Linked DNA regions of Homo sapiens: region 2 is linked to region 1. The links come from fine-mapping of genetic effects on gene expression. Tissue or cell type: whole blood. Region 1 holds a variant in brackets; the other region holds the start of a gene. All regions are shown on one strand. Distances are between the middles of the regions.

What was found. PIP is the estimated chance that this variant, and not a neighbour inherited with it, causes the effect.
Region 2: PBXIP1 starts here. The variant in region 1 is fine-mapped to the expression of PBXIP1 in whole blood (INTERVAL, PIP 0.98).

What each region holds. Positions count from the first base shown.
Region 1 is chr1:154,902,361-154,906,706 of GRCh38, forward strand. No RefSeq gene overlaps it. Among named protein-coding and RNA genes, the nearest start is that of PMVK, 32 kb to the right of the region's middle. The variant T/C (reference allele first, on the strand shown) is at 2,269.
Region 2 is chr1:154,953,848-154,957,847 of GRCh38, forward strand. PBXIP1 (PBX homeobox interacting protein 1) reads right to left here and starts at 2,252. Exons shown (of 11, transcript NM_020524.4): 1 at 2,222-2,252. PYGO2 (pygopus family PHD finger 2) reads right to left here. Exons shown (of 3, transcript NM_138300.4): 3 at 3,179-4,000.

The DNA.
Region 1 (4,346 bases):
AATAGCCACTTTTCAGTTAAATGCCCAGATTATAATTTGGCATCTCTCACAAGTGACAGCCACCATTCTGGTTTTACCCTTTTCTGGCCACTCAGCCCAGTGTGACAAAAGCCCTTTCCTTCATTCCCCACAGGACAGCAGAGAATGGGCTGCCAATACCACCCTTAAACTTAAGCAAAAGGACCCTTCCCTGAACCCACACACATGCACACACACACACATACATACACACAAACATTGTTAATGAACGCAGGTGACTTGGAAATTCCACTCCTAGGTATATCCCCAGAAGAACTGAAAATATGGCCAGGCGCGGTGGCTCATGCCTGTAATCCCAGCACTTTGGGAGGCCGAGGCAGCCAGATCACTTGAGGTCAGAAGTTCAAGACCAGCCTGGCCAGCATGGTGAAACCCTGTCTCTAGTTAAACACAAAATTAAAAAACAAAAAATTAGCCAGGCATAGTTGTGCATGCCTATAATCCCAGCTACTCAGGAGGCTGAGAGAGGAGAATCACTTGAATCCAGGTAGTGGAGGTTGCAGAGAGCCAAGATCACACCACTGCTCCCCAGCCTGGGCAGCACAGTGAGACTCTGTCTCAAAAAAAAAAAAATTGAAAATTCATGCCCACACAAAAACGTGTACATGAATGTTCATGGCAGCATTATTCATAATAGCCAGAACCCTAATGGCCATCAACTGATGAATGGATAAACAAAATGTGGTGTATCCATACACTGGAATCTCATTCAGCCATGAAGTACTGACATCTGCTACAATATGGGGGAGCCTTGAAAATATTGTGCTAAGTGAAAGACATAAGTCACAAAGGACACATATTCTACAATTCCATTTATATTAAACATCCAGAATAGGCAAATCTATAGAGGCAGAATGTAGATTAGTGGCTGCCAGGGGGTTGGGGAGGGGAGAATGGGAAGTGACTGCTAATGAGTACGGGGTTTCTCTTGTACTGATGAAAACATTCTGGAATTGGTGGTGATGGTTGCACAACTCCGAATTGTACTAGAAACCACTAAAGTATTCTCTTTAAATGGATGAATTTTATGGTATGTGAAAATGTTACAATAAATCAAACACACATGGCTGGGAGCAGTGGCTCATGCCTGTAACCCCAGCACTTTAGGAGGTCAAGGTGAGAGGATCATTTGAGCTGGGGAGGTTGAGGCTGCAGAGAGCTGTGACCATGCCACTGCACTCCAGCCTCGGTGACAGAGTGAGTGAGACCTTGTCTCAAACACACACACACACACACACACGTGCAGGTACCTCATTCTCTCAGGAGCTGAACTCAGTGCTGGCACAGGGCACCACATAATCCTAACATCTTCTTTTGTGACTAACATTTCTGCACATCTCTCACCTTATGTCTTCAAAACAAAGGCAACGAAATCCGAACGCTGTAAAGGTGTGTGGGTTGCCGCACAACCAATGTTGCTGATGAACTCTGCTTTAGAATACAGGGAAGATTTCAGTGGAGAATTGTTTCAGTAAAAGAAAAGACAAATGAATTAATTTGTCAAACCCTTTTATATAAGCACAACATATCTTTCACCAGAAGGGCTGAATGTTCGTTTTCTTCCTTCCCTTCCTGTTTCAAACACGACTATGGAAGTATTCGTCGACTACCAGAGCATTCTTAACTGTTGTGCACAGTAGTTGAGGAATATTTTCAATATCGAATAATTTGTATTATGGAGCCAGGCATGCTGGCACATGCCTGTAATCCCACCTACTTGGGAGCTCAGGTGGGAGGATCATTTGAGGCCAGAAATTTGAGACCAGCCTGGGCATAGTGATTAGTGAGACCCTCTATGAAATTTTAAAATAATAATAAAGAGTATGGTGCTTAGCAAAATACCTAAAAATAAATAAATAATTCTTATTACTCTTAAATTAGTAAATATGTAGGCCTAGATGTAAATGCATAAAGCTCAATTATTACATTGGCTGTGAGGTAAATACTAGATATTGAATACTAGAATTGGAAATAGTTTTATTTTTGTAAAAACGTGTAATAAAATTTAAATTTTTGTAAAATCAAATTTAGAATAATTGTCTTTATTCAAAAAATTTGCTTTCAATTTTTTATATTCATTTATTTAAACCAATATTTTGCCTTTTATTTTAATAGATAAGTTGATGCCTTTGGCTATTCAGATTGTTATAACAAATTATCTTGGATTAGGTAATTTATAAACAACAGAAATTTCTTGCTCACAGCTCTGGAGGCTGAGAAGTCCAAGAT[T/C]GAGACACCAGCAGATTCAGTGTCTGATGAGGGCCTATTCCTCATAGCTGGTGCCTTCTATGCATCCTCACGTGGCGGAAGAGGGGAACAAGCTCCCTCAGGTCTCTTTTTTCCTCTCTCTTTTTAATCTTTTTTTTTAATTTTTAATTTTTCTGGGTACATAGTAGGTGTACATATTTGTGGGTTACATGAGATATAAGAGCTGAGTGATACAGGCGTGCCATACACAATAATCACATCAGGGTAAATGGGGTATCCATCACTTCAAGCATTTATCCTTTGTGTTACAAACAATCCAATTATATTGTTCTAGGCTTTTTTGTTGTTCTTTTTTTTTTTTTTTTTTTTTGAGACAGGGTCACCCAGGCTGGAGTGCAGTGGAGCAATCTTGGCTCACTGCAGCCTCAACCTCCTGGGCTCAAGTGATCCTTCCACCTCTCAGCTCCCCCTGAGTAGCTAGGATTACAGACACACACCGGCACACCTTGCTAATTTTTGTGTGTTTTTCGTAGAAACAGAGTTTTGCCATGTTGCCTAGGTTTTGTTATTTTTAAATGTACAATTTTGTTTTACTATATTCGCCCTGTCGTGCTAGCAAATACTAGATCTTATTCATTCTTTTTTTTTTTTTTTTTTTGAGACGGAGTCTCGCTCTGTCACCCAGGCTGGAGCGCAGTGGCGCGATCTCGGTTCACTGCAACCTCCACCTCCCAGGTTCAAGCGATTCTCATGCCTCAGCCTCCCAAGTAGCTGGGACTACAGGCATGCGCCATCACGCCCGGCTGATTTTTGTATTTTTGGTAGAGACGGGGTTTTGCCTTGTTGGCCAGGCTTGTCTTGAGCTCCTGACTTCAGGTGATCCACCCGCCTCAGCCTCCCAAAGTGCTTAATTTTGGCCTCCCAAAATTAAGCCTCCCAAAGCTACCTCGCCCAGCCTTAATTTCTTAGTGTTTTACATTTATTGCAATGTATATTTTAATGAAAAATATTCAGATTCTATACTTTTTAGAAAAAATGACTTTTATACTTTTATCTAGATCATTACTATCAACAGCACACAAATTAGGTGAAGATCTTCATCAAATTAATATAATTTGTGATTTTCTAAAATAAAGGCAAGAAAAATAAACGTTATGGAAAAATAGAATAATTTATAAGTGACATTTACCTTCATTACTTATGCAATCATCTCTGGCACATTAATAGAACATCTAGACATATACAACAATAATTAAATTCAATCAATTTTGATATGTTGGCAACTTTGAGTTACATATTTTTCAGCTTTGTCATTATAAAGGTATATTTGTCAAAGTAGGAGGTTAGAATATATATACATATATATGAACATATGAATATATATGTGAATATATATATATATATATATATATATATTTTTTTTTTTTTTTTTTTTTTTGAGACAGAGTCTCACTTTGTTGCCCAGACTGGACTGCAGTGTTGCAATCTTGGTTCACTGCAAACCTCTACCTCCCCGGTTCAAGTGATTCTCCTGCCTCAGCCTCCCGAGTAGCTGGGATTACAGGCATGAGCCACCACGCCCAGCTAATTTTTGTACTTTCAGTAAAGATGGGGTTTTACTATGTTGGCCGGGCTGGTCTCGAACTCCTGATCTCAGGTGATCCACCTGCCTCGGCCTCCCAAAGTGCTGGGATTACAGGCGTGAGCCACTGCGCCCAGCCACATTTTATTTATTTAACAGTTTGTTAGTTTTATTTATAACTTTTTTTTTTTGAGACAGGGTCTCACTATGTTCTTCAGGCTGAACTCAAACACCTAGGCTCAAGCAACCCTCCCACCTCAGCCTTCCTAGTAGGTAAGAGTACAGGCGTGAGCCTGGCTTATTTATAATTTTTGAATGTTTAGACATCTAGTATGTAGGCCTCTTGTTCCAGCCCCACAAATGTGAGGGGCAGTTCCATAGGCCACACCTCAGACTCTTACTAAGGATCACGGAAGGAAAGCACAAGGCCGAGGAGAAACAGCTCCAGCTACTAGAGATGGCGCTACTCTCAGGGCCCCAGGCCCACCACCACGATGAGCTCCCAGCCAGCCCACAG
Region 2 (4,000 bases), 51 kb after region 1:
GCTGGGCAGCAGCCTCCAGAACCAAGCCTGGTTCCAGTCCTTCTCTCCCTGACACCCCAGCTCTTCTAAGCAGTATTTGCCTTGCAAATCAGAATCTGCCAACACCCACAGAGAAGCCAGCCTCTTCCAGGGACCAACAGGGCCTTGGAAAACTGAACTGACCTTGAAAGGTCAAAGTAGCATAGGCTGGAAAGGCTCTGGGGAATTCCAGTCCAGCCCCCTGACATTTGAGTCAGGGAAGATGAAGCCCAGCAAGGTTGACAGACTCAACTTGCCAATAAGAAGACTTGTTAATAAGAAGAGCAGGGAAACAACACAGCCCTCCCTTCACAACACCAGGTACCTACACAATCACTACCTTCTCCCCCAGGACCTGGAAGGGAAGACTCAATGGCCTCCTTCAGCCCTAAGTGTCCCACCACTTGCCCAGCATAAGTCCTTGGTATGGTCTAGTTCAGTGGTTCTCAATCTTGGCTGCACATTGGAATCACCTAAGATTTTGATTCAATTGAGTTGGGGGGTAGGCCCGGCTGTGGGTCTTTTAAAAAACCACTCAAATGATTCTCATGCGCAGCCAGGGTTAAGAGCCACTGGCATAGCTTAGATCCACCTGGATGCACCTTTTATAAGTCTCCTCATCACTCTCAGTCTTCATCCTAAATTCTGTTTACCTTCTTAGTAATCGCCAGAGTTTGGTCTTAGGGAACTTGAAGGTGACTGGGAAAATGGATTTATGGCAACTATCATGTATATATACATCACTTTATAGCTTGCAAAAAATAGACAAAAATCAGGGCTATGGTCCTGCACCCGGTTAATCTGCTCTGACTTGACAGGGATAGGGGAGGGAATCACTCCAGTTTCCAAAGCCTGACTGACACAAAGCAGGGTAAGAAGAGAGGGATCCGCCCCTTCATCCAAGGCTAAAACAGTTCCCTCAGGCAGCTCCTGTTGGGACCAGGCATAAAGGTGGAAGGATAGATGAGCTGACCTCTCAAGAGTACTGGATTGTGATCCCTCAGAACAGGATAAATGACTGCTTCCCGAGCACTTTATAAGAAAACTCAGGAAAAGGGAAGTGAGGCTGGGAGAGTATGGCAGTTCTACCTTTGAAACCAACCACATTATCCCCTTCTGTTTGAGCTGTTTTCAAGTCCTGCGTGGTGCCCTAAGTAACCTCCTGTGGCTCCTGCCAGTCAAGATCCAAGTCCTGGATAGGTCTTTCCCAATGCCCATCCTCCCAGACACATGCACCCATTCCACACGGAGACAGGAGAATGGCTGCAATGACCTCCCTGTACCAAATCCAACAGGACACCCTGGCATGCATCTGTAAGTATCCATAGAGCCATGGCTGTTCAGCCTTCCGCTTGTGGCTCCACCCCCGCCCTTGTTATCATCTCCCCATCCCCAGTTGCTGACTGTTAACAGGTGGTGGCAGGAAGGAAGTGGCAGCAGCTTGGGCTGAAGTCCCTGTTTATCCCTAGCTGTGTGTGCAGCCTGCTCAGGTCCTCTAGAACCAGGCACCATGGCAACCACAGTGATGTCAGACCCACTGTCTCCATGGAAACCAGCAAAGGTATTTGGGTCAACAAAACAAATACTTATGAGACCCAAATAGGAGACACTCTGAAACTCCTATACTCTGGGTTCCAAACCCTGATACCTCTTTCTTGGTTAGGTTAACCCAGGGTTCAAAAAAACACCTCTTCTCCCAAGCCAGCATCTCACTGCCTTATTAGGAAGTTCCTTCTGCTGTCTAATCTCCACCCTTCCCTGCTGTGTTTCCAGATCTTTTTCTTTTCATCGACCTTCTGGAAGAAAACCCACCTCCACTCCCTCCCTCCACCCCCTTCTTTTCATTCAGGCAGGATTCAACAAACACCTCCTGTAAGGATTATGACAGAGACTTCTGCTATTTCTAAAAAACAGCTAAAGGGGGAGCTCTCCCACTCAGCATAAAGCTAGGAAGTCTCGCCTCTAGTTAATTTAAACTCCTCTAACAGTTGCTCCTCCAAACCGCTAAAGCAAAGGATCTAGGGCCACTTGCCTGGGGTACCCAGAGCAAGTTCCTGTTGTGTTAGCGTCGGCACCTGGCCTTCCTCCCCCAGCCCAGAAATGAAAAGCAGCTCATTCCTTCTAGATTAGTTCCGCCTTCCCTTTTCCTTATTCCACCCCCTTCAAAGCGAATCTGTGGACCCCTTCCCAGCTAAGGCATTACCTGAACCAGCTCTTGCTTCGGTCTTCAGCTTAACTTGTTGCAGGCTTCCCTTTGTTTGCAGCCCGAGAAGAAAATCATGTGACCAGAAACTGACCAATGAAAAGTCAACTTCCCCAAGGGGGCGGAAACTTTTGGCCAATAAGAGCAGGAATTGAGAGCCAGGGGAGGGGAAGGGAGGTCTAGCGACACGGCCCTAAACCTGGGCTTACCTCCTGGTGGGCGACCGGGGTCCCAGCTAACCGAATCCTGAGTTTCCTGCCCTTCTTTCCCAGTGTCTAAACAGTTTCTAGAGGGAACCCCCACAAACTGAGAGAAAAGCAGACGGTGCCGTCTTCTGAGATGACGAAGACAAGGGGCCAGGTTGGCCCCAGGATAGACAGAGACAGCTGTGAGATGGGGGAAGGGAGAGGGACAGGTCGCAAATCCAGGGTGTGGAAATAGCCCTCCTGCCATTCTCCCCAATCTGCTCCAAAACAGACTGCTTAAAAGATGCCATTGCTACTTTAAAAAACGGTTGGGGGACGGGAACGATCTGAAAAACATCCCAAAATGAAATTTGCTAGGACAGAAGCAGCCCCTCCCCTCACCCTTAGAGCGACACTTGCTCCCTAACCCAAACAACTGGGAGGTGGGTGGGGTGCTAAACCCAGAAGAGCTCAAGCACTTGTCTTCCAGAGGCTGTGGTGCCAAATCCGCCTGGCTCCAGGCCTGGCCCAGGAATATGCTCAAAAAGGAAACTCAGTTTCTCACAGTGGAGACACAGGGGGATGGGCGGGGAAACACAGGCCTCCCTTGGCTCAGCAGCTTATACCAGGGTCAGCTCAGGGGCCAAATCTGCCATTCCCACTCCCAGGGACCCTGGGGAGCATACATATCCTCAACCCCTAAGCACCCTACCCAGCAGTGACAGCGGCTCATTCCAGCCTTTTCACACAGCAACAGCAAGGAGTCCTTGTCTGGGATTTTAAAATCATTTTATTAATCCAACAGTACAAAAGACCCCCACCACCACCGCATTCTGCCATCACTTTGTTCCAAAAAGTAGTGGAGTGAGAGAGCGAGAGGGAGCAGATCCAGCAAAAACACTCCCCCAGGGGCCATTTTACAAAATGCGGAGCAGGGGAAGACAACACAAAAACAGCAACAGATAAATGGGGCAAACAGAACAACAAACACAAGAGTTGAGCAGCGGGGTGGGGGTGGGGGGTTGCCATCTACGCCGTTTTAGTGTGAGGGACACTGGGAACGATGCCCAGAGGCTGCTCTCCTCCCAGCCTCAAAGGTTGTCAGCTCCACCAGAGCAGGGTCTTCTCTCCTCATGCCAGGAACTGAGAGAAGTGGGGGTAGGGGACCACTAGGTCTTTGCCACTGTATCTTGAGCTGGGGGACTCCTAACTTCTCCGAGGGCCACACCCCATGCCTGCCTTCCCCACCCCATGGAGGAATGTGTGCATGAACAGAAAAGGAGAACGAGCAGCGCTAAGGTCCTCATCAGGCCCCAGGCCCATCTCTGGCAGGCAGTGCTTAAAAAATAAAAAAAGACAAATAAAGCCCAGTGCAGGCCTTTGGCTGAGAGGAATGAGAATTGCTAATTAATCACCAGGCCCAAGAGGATATGAAAGAATAGCAAAGAGAAGCAACAAACTCCAGGCTCTTCTACCTTTGAGTACCATGGCAATGAGGATCCCGCCGCATCCCCTACCCACAGGCTGTGACAGGGCCTCACTTGGATCCTTTTATCATGGAGGAAATGAGGTATAGGGCTCTGCGCCTTTTCAA